3 linked regions of the Homo sapiens genome follow. The protein of the gene in region 2 purifies or fractionates together with the protein of the main gene of each other region. This does not show direct contact. Each region holds a gene or a part of one and is shown on either strand. Other genes may lie near its edges. The genes, in order: ACOX1, RIDA and OGA.

The links.
Region 1: the proteins of RIDA (region 2) and ACOX1 purify together in Homo sapiens (affinity purification with mass spectrometry; 2 studies listed by BioGRID and IntAct, with this or other methods). This does not show direct contact.
Region 3: the proteins of RIDA (region 2) and OGA purify together in Homo sapiens (affinity purification with mass spectrometry; 2 studies listed by BioGRID and IntAct, with this or other methods). This does not show direct contact.

Annotation. Positions count from the first base shown.
Region 1 is NC_000017.11:75,941,092-75,948,202, reverse strand, and holds the end of ACOX1 (peroxisomal acyl-coenzyme A oxidase 1), read left to right. Parts: intron 1-1,407; coding exon 1,408-1,455; 3' UTR 1,456-6,696; downstream 6,697-7,111. UniProt on the Homo sapiens protein: Involved in the initial and rate-limiting step of peroxisomal beta-oxidation of straight-chain saturated and unsaturated very-long-chain fatty acids.
Region 2 is NC_000008.11:98,107,117-98,114,227, reverse strand, and holds part of RIDA (2-iminobutanoate/2-iminopropanoate deaminase), read left to right. Parts: intron 1-5,476; coding exon 5,477-5,582; intron 5,583-7,111. UniProt on the Homo sapiens protein: Catalyzes the hydrolytic deamination of enamine/imine intermediates that form during the course of normal metabolism. May facilitate the release of ammonia from these potentially toxic reactive metabolites, reducing their impact on cellular components.
Region 3 is NC_000010.11:101,801,409-101,808,519, reverse strand, and holds part of OGA (protein O-GlcNAcase), read left to right. Parts: intron 1-618; coding exon 619-790; intron 791-2,376; coding exon 2,377-2,475; intron 2,476-4,500; coding exon 4,501-4,785; intron 4,786-7,111.

The sequences.
Region 1 (7,111 bases), on a different chromosome or scaffold from region 2:
TTGAAGCAGGAAAGGCCTCTCGAAGGGGATTTATCTGTGAAAGCTCTGAAAGTACCATGGCCACTTCTGACAGTCACTTTATTTGAGCAACAGGTTCAGAAGGGAACTGGGTTGTTCCCACAGTAACCAGGGTCTTAATCAATTTCAATTTTTGATAACGAATTGAACATTTAAAAATATATACAGGCCGGGTGCGTTGGCTCACACCTGTAATCCCAGCACTGTGGGAGGCCGAGTGGGCAGATCACCTGAGGTCAGGAGTTCGAGACTAGCCTGGCTAAAATGGCGAAACCCAATCTCTACTAAAAATACAAAAAAAGCAGCCAGGCAGTAATGGTGCACGGCTGTAGTCCCAGCTACTCGGGAATTCTCCTGCCTCAGCTTGAACCCAGGAGAACCCAGGAGGCGGAGGTTGCAGTGAGCCACGTTCGTGCCATTGCACTCCAGCCTGGGTGACAAGAGCAAAACTCTGTCTCAAAAAAAAAAAAAAAGTATACACACACACACACACACACAAATAGAATAAAATATACAAAAAGAGAATTCCGTAGTGCTCTTTGGTACACCCTTTGTCTAGCAGCAATGACTATCAACTCGTGGCTAGTTGTGTTTCATCTGAACCTTCATCCCCCTCCTCCTGGGGACTATTTTGAAATAAATCTAAGACATCAGGGCCAGGCTCAGTGATGCACACCTGGGAGGCCGAGGCAGGTGGATCACCTGAGGTCGGGAGTTTGAGACCAGCCTGACCAACATGGAGAAACCTTGTTTCTACTAAAAATACAAAATTAGCCAGGCGTGGTGGCGCATGCCTGTAATCCCAGCTACTTGGGAGGCTGAGACAGGAGAATTGCTTGAGCCTGGGAGGCGGAGGTTGCGGTGAGCCGAGACCATGCCATTGCACTCCAGCCTGGGCAACAAGAGCGAGGCTCCGTTTCAAAAAAAAAAAAAAAACTAAGACATCAGATAATTTTATCCATAAATAATTCAATGCATAGCTCTAAAAGATAAGGACTCTTCAGAAACAACCACAGGCTGGGCACAGTGGCTCACGCCTGTAATCCTAGCACTTTGGGAGGCTGAGGTGGGTGGATCACTTGAATTGAGGAGTTCTAGACCAGCCTGGCCAACATGGTAAACCCCCATCTCTACAAAAAAATACAAATAGCAGCCAGGTGTCATGGCACACACCTGTAGTTCTAGCAACTCGGGAGGCTAAGGTGGGAAGATCGCTGGAGTCTGGGAGGCAGAGGCTGTAGTGAGCCAAGATTGTGCCACTGCACTCCAGCCTGAGCAACAGAGCAGGACTCAGTCTCAAAAAAAAAACAAAAACAAAAACAAAAAACAGTATACTATTTAACATGGCAAACTCTTTATTAGTAGTTCTTCTCTCTCCTTTCCCCACAGGTCCACGAATCTTACAAGCACCTGAAGTCACTGCAGTCCAAGCTCTGAAGTGTCACAAGGACAAGTTTAATCTGCTTCAGAAAGCGCCTGTGTGCAACTCAAATTTTGTGGAATCTTTTTCGAATTCAAATAGCTATAGAGCAAATGATAAATTGACCCCTTTTTATAAATGGAGGGAAAAAATGAACAGATTTCAGAGATTAAATGAAAAAAAGCAGATGTTTTAAGTGCAATTAACACTGAAAGAGACCTGTTAAACCATTCAGAAAAAGCTTAAGAAATGCGATATGACTTCCTTTTGTAATGCTGCTGATCCCAGTAGACTATGACTTTTGATAATTAGCAGAATTTAACTACTGAGTAGTTGATTATTTTCACATTTTAATTGCTAATCACTGGCTATATAAGTGTTTTTAAGCAAAGGTATTTTTGAAGTGGTGTAGAACCCTTCCAAGCTTTCCTGCTCAGTGTTCTACCAGACTTACCCTGGGGCCTGGCTTAAAAGCAGGATTGAAGAAAAGGGACTGGGGGAAGGAAACTTATTGGAAAACTTGATGCGAATGAGTTTCTGCTTGGCACAGTCTCTGCCTGCTTGCTCTCCTTTGCTGATGGATTGCATTTATCAAACTATTCATGCTAGCATTTTTCCAACGAGGGAACTTATTCCGCACGGGCCTACTGTAGGACCATTGTCTCGTGTAATTAGGAATTTTCCATTTGAAGGATTGCTAAATTGTCACAGTAGTAGGAAGTATAGGGAAACCTCTCAGCTGTGGCACTGTTGTAGCTTTGGAGTGCAGAGTGTAACTCTGGGACAATCAGATTTCACATATTCTGTCATCTTGGCATAAGCCATTAAAAGCTTGGAGATTACTGTATTTGGCATTAAAAAAAAATGTCACTTAGGTCAGCACTCCCAGACGTAGCACAGAAAAACCCTTTGACACAAACCATGTGTTCTGATTTTTGGTTCAGAAAATATTGAAACTGTGAGTTGTTTTTTTTTTAACAACTGGGAAAAAACAAAAACAAAAAACTATAGTTAGAAAAATGGAAGTTCCATAGGTTCTATTTCTTACTCTATGTATGGCTTTGTTTTCAGTCTATTTCTAGGAGCTTTCTCTGAATCGCTAATTGTCCTTTCAGTTGAAATCTAATTTATACAATCATTCTATACTTAAAGGTTAAATACATCTTAATTAATTTTTTCTTAAAGTCAATGTAAGTCACTTTGTTTTGTTTTTTTTTAATCTACGCCATATGCCTCATGAAACCAGCTGTTCTAGAATCAGTCCTGAGAATATGGCTTAATTCCATGGAAACATAACTCCTATCTTGGGACCTGACATAATATCTATCTATCCTGGGGAACTGGTAATATGAGACTTATAGGTTACAGCAGAAATGCTACATGTTGACAAAAGCCTTAATCGTTCCACTGGGAGAACTAATTGATAATTGTGTTAAGATTGAAGATTAACCCTGTGTTAATCTCACTTGAGTCTATCCTGACAGTAGTTCAGATTCTGGAAAATGATAAACTGACCTGCTAGATGTAGAATTGTTTCAAAATTAGTGTTGAAATACCTTGTTCACAGATGAATATCTGGGCAGGATCTGAGGGTGTTTGGAATGACACCCCCCAATCCAGTTGCATAGATGGGATGTCTTTGCAGGTTTGAGGAGATCATCGACCTGCAGAGCCCCCTTTGACCCAGTACCTCACGTTTTATTTAAAATCTAAATCTGGGGCCAGGCGTGGTGGCTCACGCCTGTAATCCAAGCACTTTGGGAGGCCGAAGCGGGTGGATCACCTGAGGTCAGGAGTTTGAGACCATCCTGGCCAACATGGTGAAACCCCGTCTCTACTGAAAAAAATACAAAAATTAGCTGGGCATGGTGGTAGCACGCGCCTGTAGTCCCAGCTACTCGGGAGGCTGAGGCAGGATAATCGCTTGAACTTGGCGGGTAGAGGTTGCAGTGAGCCAAGATGGTGCCACTACACTGCAGCCTGGGTGGCTGAGCGAGACTCCGTCTCAAAAAAAAAATCTAAATCTGACATTTGATGCTATTTTTATTAATATTGGAATGTTCTGTCTTGAACTTTATTCAATATAATCAAGAATAAAGATAGAGTAAACGTCACTGATTTGTACTATTAAGAGAGAAAAAATATGCCACACAACTAAACATAGGTTTAAATTATGAAGAAATTTAGAATAGAGGTTTATTAGATTTAGGGAACACTAAGAACAAAAAAGGAAGGAGTGATACCTGCCTGAGTGGACAGCTGTAAATCAGCTGTAATTACTGCAGTTGTACCAATAGTTGTGAGTGGCTCCAGTCACTTTAGGAGTCCTTGGAAGTACTTGGTACACATTTGTTGGCTGTACCTTAAAGGAAGTGGCAAGTCCAGTTTGTTCTCTCTACCACACTAGACTGCCACTGACAAGTTTGGGTCTGTTGGATTCAAAATTTTGTAAGCCATTTTCACAAGTACAAAGATACATTTTAACCTTGTCTTCTCCAAAATTACTGAGTAGGAATTTTATTTTTATCTTTTTGAGACAGGGTATCACTGTCACCCAGACTGGAGTGCAGTGGTGGGATCTTGGCTTACTGTGACCTCTGCCTCCCGGGTTCAAATGGTCCTCCCTCCTCAGTCTCCTGAGTAGCTGGGACGACAGGCACGTGCCACCATGCCCAGCTAATTTGTTCTATTTTTTCTGTAGAGACGGGGTTTTGCCATGTTGCCCAGGCTGGTCTCAGACTCCTGGGCTCAAGCGATCATTTCGCCTCAGCCTCCCAAAGTGCTGAGATTATAGGTGTGAGCCACAGCATCTGGCCCAGAGTGAGGAGAATTAATGAGATTTTTTGTGTGTGTTAGATAATATTGATTTAAGCCTTTTTTTAAAAAGTACTCTCAACCAAATACAAAATTGAAAATGTGAGGTTTAATAGAAATGTGTTGGCTATTTGCAATGGATTTTCTTCTTGCCCAAGTGTTTGGAGTTCTACTTTATGCTCTGTATTTAAAAATTAGTGACCTCAAAGCAGAGTTGATGACACAGGCTTTGGGGCCCTCATGTTCTTGTCTTTAGAACATATCACTACTAAGTATCAGCTTATCTTCAGAACATTACAACATTCACCGTGTTCATATGCTTTCTGAGAAGTCACCACTTGTAATTTCAGATCACATACACCTGAAGGCATTTTATAGTTCCTAAAGTTAACATGTTAGATCTTTTTTTTCCACCCCATGAGGGTCTCACTCTCACCCAGGCTGGAATGCAGTGGTGTGATTGTAGCACACTTTGGCCACCAACTCCTGGGCTCAAGTGATCCTCCTGCTTTGGCCTCCTCTGAGAAGCTGGGATTACTGGTGCACACCACCACACCTGGCTAATTTTTTATTTTTTTTTATTTTTGGAAATAGGGTATGGCTATGTTGCCTTGGGCCCGTCATGAACTCCTAGCCTCAGGTGACCCTCCCACCTCAGGCCTCCCAAAGGGTTGGGATTACAGGAGTGAGCTACTGCACTGGGCCAACATGTTAATTTTTTTTTTTTTTTTTTTGAGATGGAGTCTCCCAGGCGGGAATGCAATGGTGCGATCTCGACTTCACTGCAATCTTCACCTCCCGGGTTCGAGCGATTCTCCCACCTCAGCCTCCTGAGTAGCTGGGATTACAGGCACCTGCCATCACGCTCGGCTAATTTTTGTATTTTGAGCAGAGATGGAGTTTCACCATGTTGGCCAGGTGATCTGCACTCCCACTCCCCCCACACTTCCCAAAGTGCTGGGATTACAGGCATAAGCCACAAGCCACCTCACCCAGCCAACATGTTACATCTTAATTCTTGGATTTTCTTCACTGCAGGGCTTTGGGTGGAGAAATAAAACTCTTCAAATGCATGATCTTGGAGATCCCTGTGAATCAATAATTCTTTAGACAACTGCGGCTCAAAATCCCTCCTTTCCCTTTTCCGAGTTATTCCATCCATCTTATTAGAAAGGAAGTGAATTAGGTGTAGGTGGTCTGTAACACCTGCACATCTTTTTATACGTGTAGAGGGTATGCCTGGGATATATAGGTTGTCTTCAAGCAGTAGCTGCTACTACAGCTAGAGAGAGGAGGAGTGCCAGGAAACTGATGACCTGAGACCAAGAGTCTTGTTGATGTTCTGACTTAGATAAAGGTTTTGATCATTTTCATGAAATAATGCAGGGAAGTCATTTCTGCTGTTTCTTTACTACTCCATTCTTGGAGGATTAGAACAAGTCACACTGTAATTGACTAAAACGACTTTTTATTTTAAAATATTGATGGTGGGGTTTTGCTTTTTTTTTTTTTTTTTTTTTTGAGACGTTGTCTTGCTCTTTCACCCAGGGTAGAGTGCAGTGGCGAAATCTTGGCTCACTGCAACCTCTGCCTCCCGGGTTCAAGCAATTCTCTGCCTCAGCCTCCTGAGAAGCTGGGATTACAGCGCCTGCCACCATGCCTGTCTAGTTTTTTTGTATTTTTAGTAGAGACAGGGGTTTCACCAAGTTGGCCAGGCTGGTCTTGAACTCCTGACCTCGTGATCCACCCACCTCGGCCTCCCAAAGTGCTGGGATTACAGGCGTGAGCCACCGTGCCGGGCCAGTGTTTTTAACTGTCCACACTTACTAAATTTTCCAGTACTTCTTCCTATGGTTCATGATAGTAAACACAGAAACATATAAGGAACATTATTAGAGTTACCAGATGTTAGCTGTTGCATATGTGCACATTCCTAGATTCAAGGGTGTTTTTGCCTTAAATTTAAGTGGGTCATTGGTTGTCTTGGGAAGATCATGGAAAATTCGGGATTTTTTAGAATTCTGAACCAAAATATGTTTTGAGTGTTTCTTAGTAAATGTGTGATCTTCCACCTTCCACATTCAGACTGCGGACTACACTTCATAAATGCCTTTTTATTTCCAGTTATGGATTCAACTAAATGACTGCCTTGGGAGCACATAATTACTTTGCTACCTTTTTCCCCCTTTGCTGTTGTGGCTCGAGTTTGGTTCTCACCTGAGAAGATGCATTGAGCATATGTTGTTACCCAGCCCTGGCTTAATGGTGTCCTGTGGGGTAGGGGTGGGAGGACGAGGGGCACGGGGCCAGAGCATGTGAATGGATCATGGTTGGACAGCTGTGACCTGCCAGCACTGCGGGTAAGCAAAACTACAAACCGTTCTTTCCTCTGTGACATTGAATAAACCTTAATAAAATTCATAATTAGCACATACTAGAAAAAATGTGACTTAATCTTTTTGTGGGGCGACAGTATTGGGTTTCATTCTGGCTATACAGCTTTGATTGGATCATTAAACAGGTCAGTCACTTCCCTCAAGCTTTGGGGTGTGGAATAAACACCGGTGAATTTGTGGATTCACCCGTCAACCTCCCAATATCAACACATTTCTCACGCCTCCGCGTCGGCCACGTGTCAGCCCTCAGAAGTGGGCAGGAGGAACTTTTAAGCTTCCCGGCAGTTCCCAAGAGGGCCTTTGAGCCTGGCGCCCTCTTCCCGGAGAGGCGTTGGGGCAGCTCCTAGCAACGTGCCCGCCGCCGGCAGAAGCCCGGCCCCGCCAACTGCCGCGCGCGGCTCCCTGGGAGCTGTAGTTCTTCATGGCGTCCCCACCTCCTCTGTGAGGGCGGGTGAGTCGACCG
Region 2 (7,111 bases):
CTTGTGGTTGTTGTGGTTGTGTGTTTGTATGTGTGTATATTGAGACAGTGTTTCGCTGTGTCACCCAGGCTGGAGCCGGGATCACAGCTTATTGTCGCCTCAACCTCCCGGGCTCAAGCCATCCTCCCACCTCAGCTTCCCAAGTAGCTGGGGCTACAGGCTCAGGCCACCATGCCCAGATAATTTTTGTATTTTTTATAGAGCTGGGGTTTTACCATGTTGCCCAGGCTAAATGTTTTTAAGCAGGGTGGAACATGATCAGATCTTTTAAAAAGAATTCTGATAGTAATTCTGATAGAAATTTGGAGGTAAAGAAAGTGAGAATAGTTAGGGGATATTATAAGTAAAAATTTGTGATTTTTTTTCTCCTTCTGCCCTAATGTCTTTCTCTCAATCACACAGTGGTAGCATTTAGAAAAACATCTTTACCTCCAAACAAGAGGGACACAACCAAATCAAAGTGATTATTAGAGACACTTTGTCCTGGAGCCTGCTAAAGAGCATACCCCTTCCTTGACCTATTTAGAGATACTCTGTGGACTTTGTTCAGGAAAGAAAGCATAACAGTAATGTTCCTGGTTGACTTGAAGGTAGGTGGGAGTCAACTGTCTTTATAAAGCTGAAAGCTAAAAAGAGGGGAATCATCATATGAATGTGCCAGTATGACAAGAAAAAAAGCCACCAGCCAGCTTCATGGTGTGGAGACTTCCAGGACATTGTGCCTCTTGTGCACTAGGTGACTAGAAATGGTGCTTATTTTCAATAGTTAATGTTTAAGAAAAAAAACAGACTGCAACTAACTACTTATGTTAATTGGACATGTTTTAGGAACCTTTTGGGAACAAGAGTTTTTGTGCGTGGAGTGTGTAGTGAGTACACTTTTTGAAAATCCTGGGTCCTCTCCAGGAAGAATTCAAATGTGTTGAACTTTCAGTCCCTGGCATTGGGATGGATGGGGTGTTGTCACTAATTAGCCAATCAGCTCAGCACATTTCAGGAATACTTCCAGACAGAACCTTGAAAGATTTCAACATTGCATTGCTTTGCATTGCGCATTTTGCACACCGTCCTCATAATTATAAATTTTTGAAGCAGTAGCCCGTGTGGTATAGACTATGATGTGAGAATTATTAGAATGCTTTTGAAAGTGTGATTACCCTTTAACCTGGTAGTAGAACAGTGCACTTTTAAATTTTCTGAAGTCCAACCACTTGTCTTTGGATAGTAGGATTCTTATGCTCAGAAAGTGTCAACTAGCCAATTATTCTTATGAACAAACCTCTTTAGATCTGTAAGAGATAACTCACATAGCTCAGATGGTCTCAGCTCCAGTGCTTGCTTTTTATATTTTGAAAATAAAAGAGTTTCTTTTTACTATCATGAAGTTTCTGATAAATAATAATGCATATGGTCTTAAAGTGTGTTTCAGATATGGGGAAAGCTGAAGGCACTTTGCACAGGACCTAGGGCAGACGGCCTAATTCTACACAGGACAGTTAATAAAAAACAGTGTTACTGATGGTATTATTTAACCCGAGAAAAGATTACAAATTAACAAACTCAGTAGTTATCTATTTGTGGGCCAGTATGAAAGCCAGATAGTTGAGAAGACTTTCTAGACTTTCTGAATCATGTTATCAAGTTTAAACATACCTCCTTAGCTCTCTCCAAAGCATTTGCTGTAAGTCAACAGGTCCTGCTAAAAAGAGATTCACTGACAACCAAAATTGTTTATGCTACTAAGTGGTTAAAGAGCAAAACATCAGCAAGTAGTTATAGTGTGCCTACTGTATGCAAGGAATCACCTACACCCTACACAGCTACAGAGACATGGTAAGACATTACCCTGACCTCAAGGAGTTTAGAGTCTAAGATACCTTGGGAGACAGGATAATAACAGGATGAGTTACAACACGAGGCAGGATCCTGTACATAGTATAAGGAAGATACAACCAAAGCACTCCTGGGATCCAGGGGAAAGAAAAGCTTAGTTACTTAGAGAAAGTGTGTGTGTGTGTGTGTGTGTGTGTGTTTAGTATAGTTTTATTTATGATAACAAAATATCAGAAGCAATGGTGACTCATTAAATAAAGTACATCTATATTGTAAAACATATGTAGCTGTTAAAAAAAATGAGGAAGCACTCTACATATACTTATGGAAAGATCTTCATGATATTCTGTTGAGTGAAAAAAACAAAGTGTACAAGAATGTTTAATATACCATATTTTATGTAAAAGAAGAGAGAAAATATATATTTGTTTTGGTTATCTGTTCATTAAAAAAACTGGATGAATACATAAAGAAGAACAATGGTTCTGGGCTGGGAACTGAGCAAATAGGGAACAAGAATGGAAGAAAGACTTTTCACTGCAATTCTTTGTGTATTTTCTGGATTTTTGAACCATATGAACTCCTATTCAAAAATAAATTATAAAGGGAAAAAAAAGATGTGGTCAAGAAGACCAGGAAAACTTCATGAAATAAAAGAGGAAAGTTTGGAGCATGTTGGAAAATGGAAGAATAGGGAACTAAAAGAAGATGATTAAAATGAGACTATCTTAAATTTATAAATAAGCATAGAAATTTTAAAACAAATTTCACTTCTTTTTTTTTTTTTTTGACACAGAGTCTTGCTCTGTTGCCCAGGCTGGAGTACAGTAACGTGATCTTGGCTTACTACAACCTCCACCTCCCAGGTTCAAGTGATTCTCATGCCTCAGCCTCCCAAGTAGCTGGAATTACAGGTGTGCACCACCACTGGCTAATTTTTGTGTTTTTTAGTAGAGACAGGATTTCCCCATGTTGGCAAGGCTGGCCTTGAACTCCTGGCCTCAAGTGGTCTGCCCGCCTCAGCCTCCCAAAGTGCTGGGATTATAGGCATGAGCCACCATGCCCTGCCACATTTCACTTCTAAATTAAAATTACATTAAGTCTTCTTTCTTCAACATTTTAAAAAAACAGATAGGCTTTCTTCATCCCAAAATTAATATCATTCCTATAAAAAGTAGACTTGTTTGGCTTTTTTTCAGGTATCAATGTATTGTTTTCTTTTTCCTGTGATTTTATCCTACTTCTGAAATTTAGCATCCTCATAACAGAAAAAGTCAGTTACAGAAGTAAGCACTTTGCAGAAATGAAGTTGTATTAGTTCGTTTCCACACTGCTATAAAGATACAACCCGAGTATTTATAAAGAGGCTTAATTGACTCACTGTTCCACATGGCTGGGGAGGCCTCAAGAAACTTACAATAATGGCGGAAGGGGAAGAGGCACATCGTATATGATGGCAAGCAAGAGAGAGTGTACATGTGTAGGAGGAACTGTCAGACACTTATAAAACTGTTAGATCACGTGAGAACTCACTATCATGAGAACAGCATGGGGGAAACTGCCCCCATGGTCCAGTCACCTCCCACCAGGTCCTACTCTCAACATGTGGGGATTATGGGCATTACAATTCCAGATGAGGTTTGGGCAAGGACACAGCCAAGCCATATCAGAAGTGGACCCTCAAAAGTATATCCTTAATTGATCCTCCAATAAGCAGTGACTAATCTTGTCTGAAGATGACTACTTATGTTTTTAAAAGTGCTCTTGAAATTGCATTTTTTTGCTTTACAGCTATATTGAGGTATAAGTTACTTATAAAAGTTACCCATTTTAATGGCTGGGTGTGGTGGCCCACGACTGTAATCCCAGCACTTTGGGAAGCGGAGGCAGGCGGATCACCTGAGGTCAGGAGTTCAAGACCAGCCTGGCCAACATGGCAAAACCCCATCTCTACTAAAAATGCAAAAATTAGCTGGGCGTGGTGGCTCACACCTGTAATCCCAGCTACTTGGGAGGCTGAGGCAGAATTGTTTGAACCCGGGAGGCGGAGGTTGCAGTGAGCCAAGATTGTGCCACTGCACTCCAGCCTGGGTGACAGAGTGAGACTCCATCTCAAAAAAACAAGTCACCCATTTTAATTAAGTGTAGTGTTCCATGAGTTTTAGTAAATGTATAGAATCATGCATCCACTATAATAGTCAAATTTTAGAATATTTCTATCACTCCCAAAAAATTCCCTTGTACCCATTTATGATCACCCCTGGCCCTAGACAACAATTAATAATCTGCTGCTGCTATTTTCTTTTCTAAGGTTTCATTTAAGTGAAATAAGACAATATATAGTCCTTTGTTGGATCTATCAGTGGGTGCATGTGTGTGTGTCTTGCTTTTTTGCTATAAATAATGCTATTCTGAACATTCACGTAAACTCTTTGGACATATGTTTTCATTTCTCTTGGATAGTTGCCTAGGAAAGAAATTGCTGAGTTGAGGCTCAAGCCTGTAATCCCAGCACTTTGGGAGGCCAAGGCAGGAGGATCACTTGAGTCCAGGAGTTTGAGACCAGCCTAGGCAACATAGCAAGACCTCATCTCTACAAAAAATAAAAATAAGTAAATAATAAAATAAAAAATTAGCCAGGCATGGTGGTGCACACCTTTAGTCTCAGCTACTTAGGAGGCTGAGATGGGAGGATCACTTGGGCCTGGGAGGTCAAGGCTTCAGTGAGCCAACATCCTACCACTGCACTTCAGCCTGGGTGACAGAGCAAGATCCTGTCTCTAAAAGAAGAGTTTGCTGGGTTGTATGTTAAATATATGTTTAAATTTTTAAAGAAACTGCCAAACTATTTTCTAAAGTGGCTGTACCATTTTGCATTACTACCGACAATGTATGAGGGTTGCTCCCCATCATTGCCAATGCTTACTTTATCAGTGATGTCTTAGTGTGTGGTTTTGCTTTGCATTTCTCTAATGACTACTAATGTTGAGCAAATTTCATGTACTCTAACTCTTTGTATATTTTCTTTTGTGAAGTATCATTTGCTCATATTTTATTGGGTTTGTCTTCACATTATTGACTTTTAAGAGTTCTTCTTATATTCTGGATATAGGTACTTTATTAGGTATATGTTTTGCAAATATTTTTCTCCCAATCTATGACTTGCCTTTTCTTCCCCCGACCCCTTTTTTTATTTTGGGTCTTTCTCTGTTACTCAGTGCCACTGAGGCTGGAGCGCAGTGGTATACTCATGGCTCACTTCAGCCTTCAACTCCTGGGCTCAAGCAATTCAATCACCCTAGCCTCCTGAGTAGCTGGGACTACGGGTGTGCGTCACCATACTTGGCTGTTTTTTATTGTTTTTTGTAGAGACTGAGTGGTTGCCCAGGCTGATCTCAAACTCCTGGTCCCAAGCGATCCTCCTGCTTCACCCTCCCAAAGCACTAGGATTACAGCACCCAGCCCCTTTTCATTTTCTTAAAGATATCTTTGATAAACAAAAGTTTTCAATTTTCATGAAGTCCAATGTATCTGTTTTTTTTTTTTTACAATTTATACTTCTCTGTCCTATCAAAAAAGTCTTCTAGCATTGAATTTTATGTTTTATACTTACATAAATACACTAGCTTTCTGTTTATTGCAGTCAAGCTGTATTAGTCGACAGGACCATTTACATTTCAGGACAGATAGGCATGGACCCTTCAAGTGGACAGCTTGTGTCAGGAGGGGTAGCAGAAGAAGCTAAACAAGTAAGTTATTTTCCACATTTAAGGTTCCCTTTTCTACTACCTTTTTAATGTTGAAGAGCATTAAGAATCCACTTGCCTGATTTGTTTTATAGAGATTAACAGATAAATGTTTTTTAAACTACTTACTGCTTGATTTAACATAGTTTTTGATCTAAGAGTTGGAAATTTGATGGATCATGAATCATCTAACAACCAAAAGAGAGATTCCACCTCCTTAACACTAAGGTGACCTTAAACCTGAATTATTGACGTCAGATGACATGTTGCCACTTCCACATGGATTGGGAAATTTTCTTCTCAGGGCCACTGACCTGCCCCTCTTCAAAAAAAAAAAAAAATTACCACCACAGAAGTAAAAAGTCAACATTTTTAAAAATAAGAATGGGGAATATAATTTTAATCCAATAAATATAATTAAACCATAATTTAGGCCAGGCACGATGTGGCTCACACCTGTAATCCTAGCACTTTGGGAGGCCGAGGCTGGCAGATCACTTGAGGTCAGGAGTTCAAGACTAGCCTAGACAACATGGTGAAACCCCATCTCTACTAAAAATACAAAAATTAGTTGGGGGAGGCCAGGCACAATGGCTCACACCTGTAATCCCAGCACTTTGGGAGGCCGAGGCGGGCAGATCACCTGAGGTCAGGAGTTCAAGACCAGCCTGGCCAACATGGTGAAACCCCGTCTCTACTGAAAATACAAAAATTAGCCAGGTGTGGTGGCATGTGCCTGTAGTCCCAGCTACTCGGGAGGCTAAGGCATGAGAATCGTTTGAACCCGGAAGGCGGAGGTTGCAGTGAGCTGAGATTGTGCCACTCCACTCTAGCCTGGGCAACAGAGCAAGAACCCTGTCTCAAAAAAAAAATAGAAAAAAAAAGTAACCCAGTCAGGTGGCACATGCCTGTAGTCCCAGTTACTCAGGAGGCTGATGCAGAAGAATCGCTTAAACCTGGGAGGTGGAAGTTGCAGGAAGCCAAGATCGTGCCACTGCACTCCTGCCTGGGACACAGAGCAAGACACTGTCTCAAAAAATAAAATAAAATAAAACAATAAACTATAATTTACTGCATTTACTGAGTCATATAATGCTGAAAGTTTGTTTTGTTTTGTTTTGTTTCTTGAGACAGCCTTGCTCTGTCGCCCAGGCTGGAGTGCAGTGTCGTGATCTCAGCTCACTGCAACCTCTGTCTTCCAGGTTCAAGCAATTCTCTTGCCTCAGCCTCCCAAGTAACTGGGACTACAGGCACACGCCACCACACCTGGCTTATTTTTTGTATTTTTAGTAGAGACGGGGTTTTACCGTGCTAGCCAGGATGGTCTCGATCTCCTGACCTCATGATCCACCCACCTCAGCCTCCCAAAGTGCTGAGATTACAGGCATGAGCCTCCACACCCGGCCTAGCTGAAAGATTTTTAAAAACCTAAATATCCACTCATAAAGAACTGGTTGAATAAATTATGCTAGATCAATACAACTAAAGTAATGTGGAAAGATCTCCGAGGTAAATTGTTCCATGGTAATAAA
Region 3 (7,111 bases), on a different chromosome or scaffold from region 2:
TCATACCTGGTTAGGTTTATCTGCAAAGGGATCAGTGTGCCTTTTGGGACTAGGACACAGCCTGGCTTTTTCATGTCTTAAGGTTACTTACTCATGTTTCTGTATTTTTCTGACTTTGTTGGGTCTTCTACAATCAGCAGCAGCCCATGAGGACTAGGAGGCTAGGCCACTTTGTTGGATCATATTGTCATATAAGTTGAGTATCCCTAATTCAGAAATCTGAAATGTTCCAAAATATGAAACTCTTTGAGCTCCATAAAATTCAAAGGAAATGCTCATTGGAGCATTTCAGATTTTGGATTTTCAGGTTAGGGATGCTGAATATAATACAGATATTCCAAAATCCAGGAAAAAACAAAAATGAAAATCCAAAACATTTTTGGTCCCAAGCATTTCAGATAAGGAATACTCAGCCTGTAGTGCATTCAAACCCAAATGAGAAATGGGTCCCAAAACTGTTTAACTTACGATTTTTTAATTGAAAATGTAAAAACAATAAATCTGTCTTTGAACATTCTAGTAAGGAAAATACTGGATTTTAAGTATAACTGTTAACGCTGTAATGTTTGGAATTCTTAATTTTTTTACTCTTGATTCTTTTTTTTTTTTTTCTCCTAGGTTTCTCAGTTTGGGTGCAGATCATTTGCTTTGCTTTTTGATGATATAGACCATAATATGTGTGCAGCAGACAAAGAGGTATTCAGTTCTTTTGCTCATGCCCAAGTCTCCATCACAAATGAAATCTATCAGTACCTAGGAGAGCCAGAAACTTTCCTCTTCTGTCCCACAGGTATTGTATATAATGGCTTTACATTTAACTAGTCTTCTTGGAATATATAACTTATAAAGGACCATGGGCCCCATTCTCTCTCCACTTCCCTCCTCCTTTGGTGTGTAAAAGTAGGAATCTTTTTTTAGAAGACATTTTTCAAGATCCTAAATTGGAGAAATTTTAGGAACTAATAAATGACAACTGACTAGGCAAAAGATTTTTATGTATTTTTAAGTACTGGAAGTATATGAACATTACATTGTCAATATTAAAAGAGGGATAGTATTGAAATGAAAACTGGAGAAAAACCAAATTACATTGCTTTTACCTTAGTCACTTCTCATTTCCTCCTACTTGTCCCCTTTTTCTGCCCATGCATATCTGTCCCTTTTTGCACTCCTCCCACTCCCATCTGGGCTCTTATTTCAAGTAGTCAGCATAGAAAGCTTAACAGTTTTTCCCGTTTTCCTTTCTTTTTGCCCCTCTGGTTTCTTTCATTGAAAATATTTTAGTCTCTTAGTTGCTTCTCAAAATTCAACTTACAGGAAGTTTTCCCCACACTTCCTTGTTCAGGAAGAATTTTAGATTAAATTATTTAACTTTCTTTGTGTGTATTGTGAGCCGAGAACCTTATTTTAGTTGAGTACTACATTAGTACCCAGAAGTTTTAAGATTATACTGGGAATTAATTAGCTGCAAGTTACAGTTTAAGTTGCAGTTGAGTACTAATAGCCATTGGTATATGCCTTTAAAAAAATTTTTTTTAAATTTTACTTTTAAGTTTGTATTATTTATTTAGAGACCGGGCTATAAAACTGGCTAATTTTTATATTTTTGGTAGAGACGGGGTTTCGCCATATTGCCCAGGCTAGTGTCGAACTCTTGGGCTCAAGTGATCCACCCGCTTCAGCCTCCCAAAATGCTGGGATTGCAGGTGTGAGCCACTGTGCCCAGCTGCCATTGGCATATTCTTGTATTAGTTCTATTATGATATTATCAATTCATTCTGTTTGGCGTTTAATTGTAACTGAGAAAAGTAGGCAATTCAGAATTCTGTAGAAAATGCTGCAGTTCTTGTTTTTTTAGTAAACTTGTATTTCTAGTAACTGTAGTATCGTAAGAATTGATCTGTACTACTGTTGGAGGAAAAATACCAGATTTTATGAATTTCTTAAATGAACTGCCCACTTTAGTTCCTTGTAGGAGGCCTTTTATCATTTAGATGAAAATAATTTAGAATTGGCAGACATTTTTTCCACATTCAAAAACCCATGGGCCTTTTGGGAGGCCAAGGCGGGCGGATTGCCTGAGCTCAGGAGTTTGCGACCAACCTGGGCAGCATGGTGAAACCCCATCTCTACTAAAATACAAAAAAAAATTAGCCGGGCGTGGCGGCGTGCGCCTGTAGTCCCAGCTGCTTGGGAGGCTGAGGCAGGAGAATTGCTTGAGCCCAGGAGGCAGAGGTTGCAGTGAGCCGAGATCGTGCCACTGCACTCTAGCCTGGGCATCAAGAGTGAGACTCCGTCTCAAAGAAAACAAACAAACAAAGAGAAAACCCATGAGCATTTTAATTCTGACTTTTTTACTTTTCTCCCTACATTTAGAATACTGTGGCACTTTCTGTTATCCAAATGTGTCTCAGTCTCCATATTTAAGGACTGTGGGTGAAAAGCTTCTACCTGGAATTGAAGTGCTTTGGACAGGTAAGTCTTTTAAGATTTATACAGTCAAAGTTGAATTAAGTAGGACTTGCAGAAATTGCTTGTTCTTGTTAATTGAATACTTTTTTTTTTGAGACGGAGTCTCACTCTGTCGCCCAGGATGGAGTCCAGTGGCATGATCTCGGCTCACTGCACGCTCCGCCTCCCAGGTTCACACCATTCTCCTGCCTCAGCCTCCCGAGTAGCTGGGACTACAGGCACCCGCCACCACGCCTGGCTAATTTTTTGTATTTTTAGTAGAGACAGGGTTTCACCATGTTAGCCAGGATGGTCTCGATCTCCTGACCTCGTGATCCACCCGCCTTGGCCTCCCAAAGTGCTGGGATTACAGGCGTGAGCCACCACGCCTGGCCTTTTTTTTTTTTTTTTTTGAGACAGAGCATTGCTCTTGTTGCCCAGGCTGGAGTGCAGTGGCACAATCTCAGCTCCCTGCAAACTCTGCCTCCCGGGTTCAAGCAATTCTCCTGACTCAGCCTCCCAAGTAGCTGGGATTACAGGCACACGCCACCACACCCAGCTAATTTTTGTATTTCTAGTAGAGACGGGGTTTCTCCATGTTAGCCAGGCTGGTCTCAAACTCCCGACCTCAGGTGATCTGCCCACTTCGGCCTCCCAAAGTGCTGGGATTACACATGTGACCCACTGCACCTGGCCCAGAGAACTTGTTAAAATACGCTTTCTTTTACAAAGTTTACATATTCTCTTAATATGAAAAAACATCTATCATGGTTGGGGAGCCTGAGTGGGGAGCCTGAGGTGGAAGCCCCCAGGAGTTCAAGACCAGCTTAGACAACATAGAGAGACTGTAGAAAAAATAAAAAACTTAGCCAGGTGGGCTGGTGCACACCTGTAGTCCCAGCTACTTAGGGGGCTGAGGTGGAAGGATCACTTGAGCCCGGGAGGTAGAGGCTGCAGTGAGCTGTGATCATGCCACTGCACTCCAGCCTGAGCAACAGAATGAGACCCTGTCTCAAAAAAAATTCAGTTAATAAATAATAAAGATTTATAGGGAATTGGGCTAAAAGGTATTGATCCCATCCTTAAGCAGCGTTAGGAAACTCTTCTATTTTATAAAACGAAAAAAATAAAGCTCAGTAAAAGACATGTTGTGTTTTCAAAAGAAAAATTGTGGCTGGGTGCATTGGTTCGTGCCTGTAATCCCAGTGCTGTGGGAGGCTTGAGTTGAGGTAGGAGGATCGCTTGAGGCCAGGAGTTTAAGATTAGCCTGGGCAACATAGCAAGCCCTTATCTGTACAAAAAAATTTTAAATTACTGTGACATGGTGGGGCACACCTGTAGTCCCAGCTACTTGGGAGGCTGAGGTGAGAGGATTGCTTGAGCTCAGGAGCTCAAGGCTGCAGTGAGCCATGATTACTCCATTGCACTTCAGCCTGGGTAACAGAGGAGACCCTGTCTCAGAAAAAGAAACGTTGTTATAAAATGTACATGTAAGGGGCCAGGCGCAGTGGCTCACGCCTGTAATCCCAGCACTTTGGGAGGCCGAGGCAGGCGGATCACAGGGTGAGGAGATCGAGACCATCCTGGCTAACACAGTGAAACCCCATCTCTACTAAAAAATACAAAAAATTAGCCAGGCGTGGTGGAGGGCGCCTGTAGTCCCAGCTACTCAGGAGGCTGAAGCAGGAGAATGGTGTGAATCCAGGAGGCGGAGCTTACAGTGAGCCGAGATCACACCACTGTACTCCAGCCTGGGCGACACAGCGAGACTCTGTCTCAAAAAAAAAAAAAAAAAAGTACACGTAAGGAAAACAATAAAAAGTTATATATGCAGTATATTTTAAAGAACCATGATTCTTTTTTTTAAATATATTTTTTAATTTAAAATAAAAAGATAGGGTCTCGCTGTGTTGCCCAGGCTGGTCCGAACTCCTGGGCTCAAATGATCTGCCCACCTCTGCCTCCCAGAGTGCTGGGATTACAGTTATGAGCCAATGCGTCTAGCCAAGAACCATGATTCTTTTAACGAACGGTTGTCGTTATTTCTAGGTCCCAAAGTTGTTTCTAAAGAAATTCCAGTAGAGTCCATCGAAGAGGTTTCTAAGATTATTAAGAGAGCTCCAGTAATCTGGGATAACATTCATGCTAATGATTATGATCAGAAGAGACTGTTTCTGGGCCCGTACAAAGGAAGATCCACAGAACTCATCCCACGGTTAAAAGGAGTCCTCACTAATCCAAATTGTGAATTTGAAGCCAACTACGTTGCTATCCACACCCTTGCCACCTGGTACAAATCAAACATGAATGGAGTGAGAAAAGATGTAGTGATGAGTAAGTAGCCTGTACTTGATCTTTCACCTTGGGAGGAGAGCTGGGGTTAACTAGAGCCAGTGGAAAGTATGCATTCCTTTGTCATCACAACTTAAACAGTTTTATTTATTTTTTTAAAAACGTATTTTGTTTTACTAAGGAGGAAACAAAACCAAGTGGTTTTATTATGGTATGTTGTTTCATTCTGTTGATGAAGATGTATATGATAGAAGAAAGGTTGAGTGTCTTTGGACAAGTCACTTAACCTCTTTGCCTTAGTTTTTTTTTTTTTGTTTTTTTTTTTTTTAGTATGATTCAGAAGCAGCGTGGTGGCTCGCTTATAATCCCAGGAAATGCACTCCAGCCTGGACAACAGATGAAAATCCTATGAAATAAATAAAAATAAAATATGGTTCAGTCTTTGAAGTCTGAGTACTAGAGGAGACAGTCTTTTAAGTGTTTCCATTATCTCTAGAATCATTCGGATAAAATGTATTTTCAGGCAATTTTATTGAAAAGGATATTTTAGATAACTAGATACTCTTGAGTCACTTAGATCATTTAGATTCAGCTTACATTTATCTTTTATGGAACATACTCTTTTTTTTTTTTTTTGAGATGGAGTTTTGCTCCATCGCCCAGGCTGGAGTGCAGTGGCGCAATCTCAGCTCGCTGCAACCTCTGCTTCCCAGGTTCAAGCGATTCTCCAGCCTCAGCCTCCCGAGTAGCTGGGATTGCAGGCACACCCGGCTTTTTTTTTTTTTTTTTTTTTTTTTTAAAGTAGAGACAGGGTTTCACCATCTTGGCCAGACTGGTCTCGAACTCCTGACCTTAGGTGATCCACCTGCCTCGGCCTCCCAGAGTGCTGGGATTACAGGCATGAGCCACCCTGCCTGGCCGAATGGAATACAGTCTTATTTTAGACATTGGCTTACTAATTTTTAATTTATGAAAAATCTCTAATTAATAGAGTTCTAAGTAAGGTGCTTGATAATTATTTACATTTAAATAATCTGTCATGGGGCAGATGCATGTTCATGGGCACTGAGGGGGCAAAGAATAAAGTAGTTTTTTTTTTTTCTTTTTGAGATGGAGTCTTGCTCTTGTTGCCCAGGCTGGAGTGCAGTGGCGCAATCTCAGCTCCCTGCAACCTCCGCCTCCCAGGTTCAAGTGATTCTCCTGTCTCAGCCTCCCGAGTAGCTGGGATTACAGGCATGCGCCACCATGCCTGGCTAATTTTGTATTTTTAGTAGAGACGGGGTTTCTCCATGTCAGGCTGGTCTTGAACTCCTGACCTCAGGTGATCCGCCCTCCTGGGCTTCCCAAAGTGCTGGGATTACAGGCGTGAGCCATCGCGCCCAGCCATTCCTACTTTTGAGAAACAGTCTAGTGTTGGGTAAGGCTTATAGGCAATTGTACTATAGTGTGATAAGTGTTGTAATAGTTTAATTTATAAAGTGCTGTGTGAACACGGGAGAGAGTGATTATTTTTGCTAAGAGATTTCACAGACTTTTAAGCTGGATCAAAGTATGAGGAGAGTTTGCTGGGCGTTAAAGGTTTGTGGGCTGGAGGTTAAAAACACTGAACACTGAAAATTTTTTTTTTTCTTTGAGACAGAGCCTCGCTCTGTTGCCCAGGCTGGAGTGCAGTGGCGCGATCTTGGCTCATTGCAACCTCTGCCTCCCTGGTTCAAGCGAGTCTCTGGCCTCAGCCTCCTGAGTAGCTGGGATTACTGGCGCACACCACCCCATCTGGCTGATTTTTATAGTTTTAGTAGAGACAGGGTTTCACCATGTTGGTCAGGCTGGTCTCGAACTCCTGACCTGGTGATCTGCCTGCCTCTGCCTCCCAGAGTTCTGGGATTACAGGCGTGAGCCACTGTGCCCAGCCTGAACACTGAACTTTTGAAGTTCCCTGAATTTTGGCCCATTTTGGCTACTGAAGTGTCATGATAGTATGTAGTAATATTAATAGTTGTCATCTGTTTCTCAATTCCATACCTCTGCTTTGAATTGTTTATTGAATTAATGTCTCCCTTTTGTTTGGCTCAGTCATTGTCATCCTCCTCCCCTCAATAAAAAACAAATTGGGAATATAATTTAAATGCTGTCAGCGTACATGGCACTTAACTCCTACATCTTTTAAGGCACAGCAAGGAACATACTAAGGGTGGCAGACACTATCCAAACCTGGGACATACGTAGGAAATATTAAGGAAAGCTAAGAATAGAGAGTTTTTAAGTACAAAATCAAAAAATTCAGACTTAATTTTCTCTACCACTATCCTGGCTCAGAGCTTTGTTGCCTTATGTGTGCTAATTTGTGGGTCTCTGTCGATTATCTCTT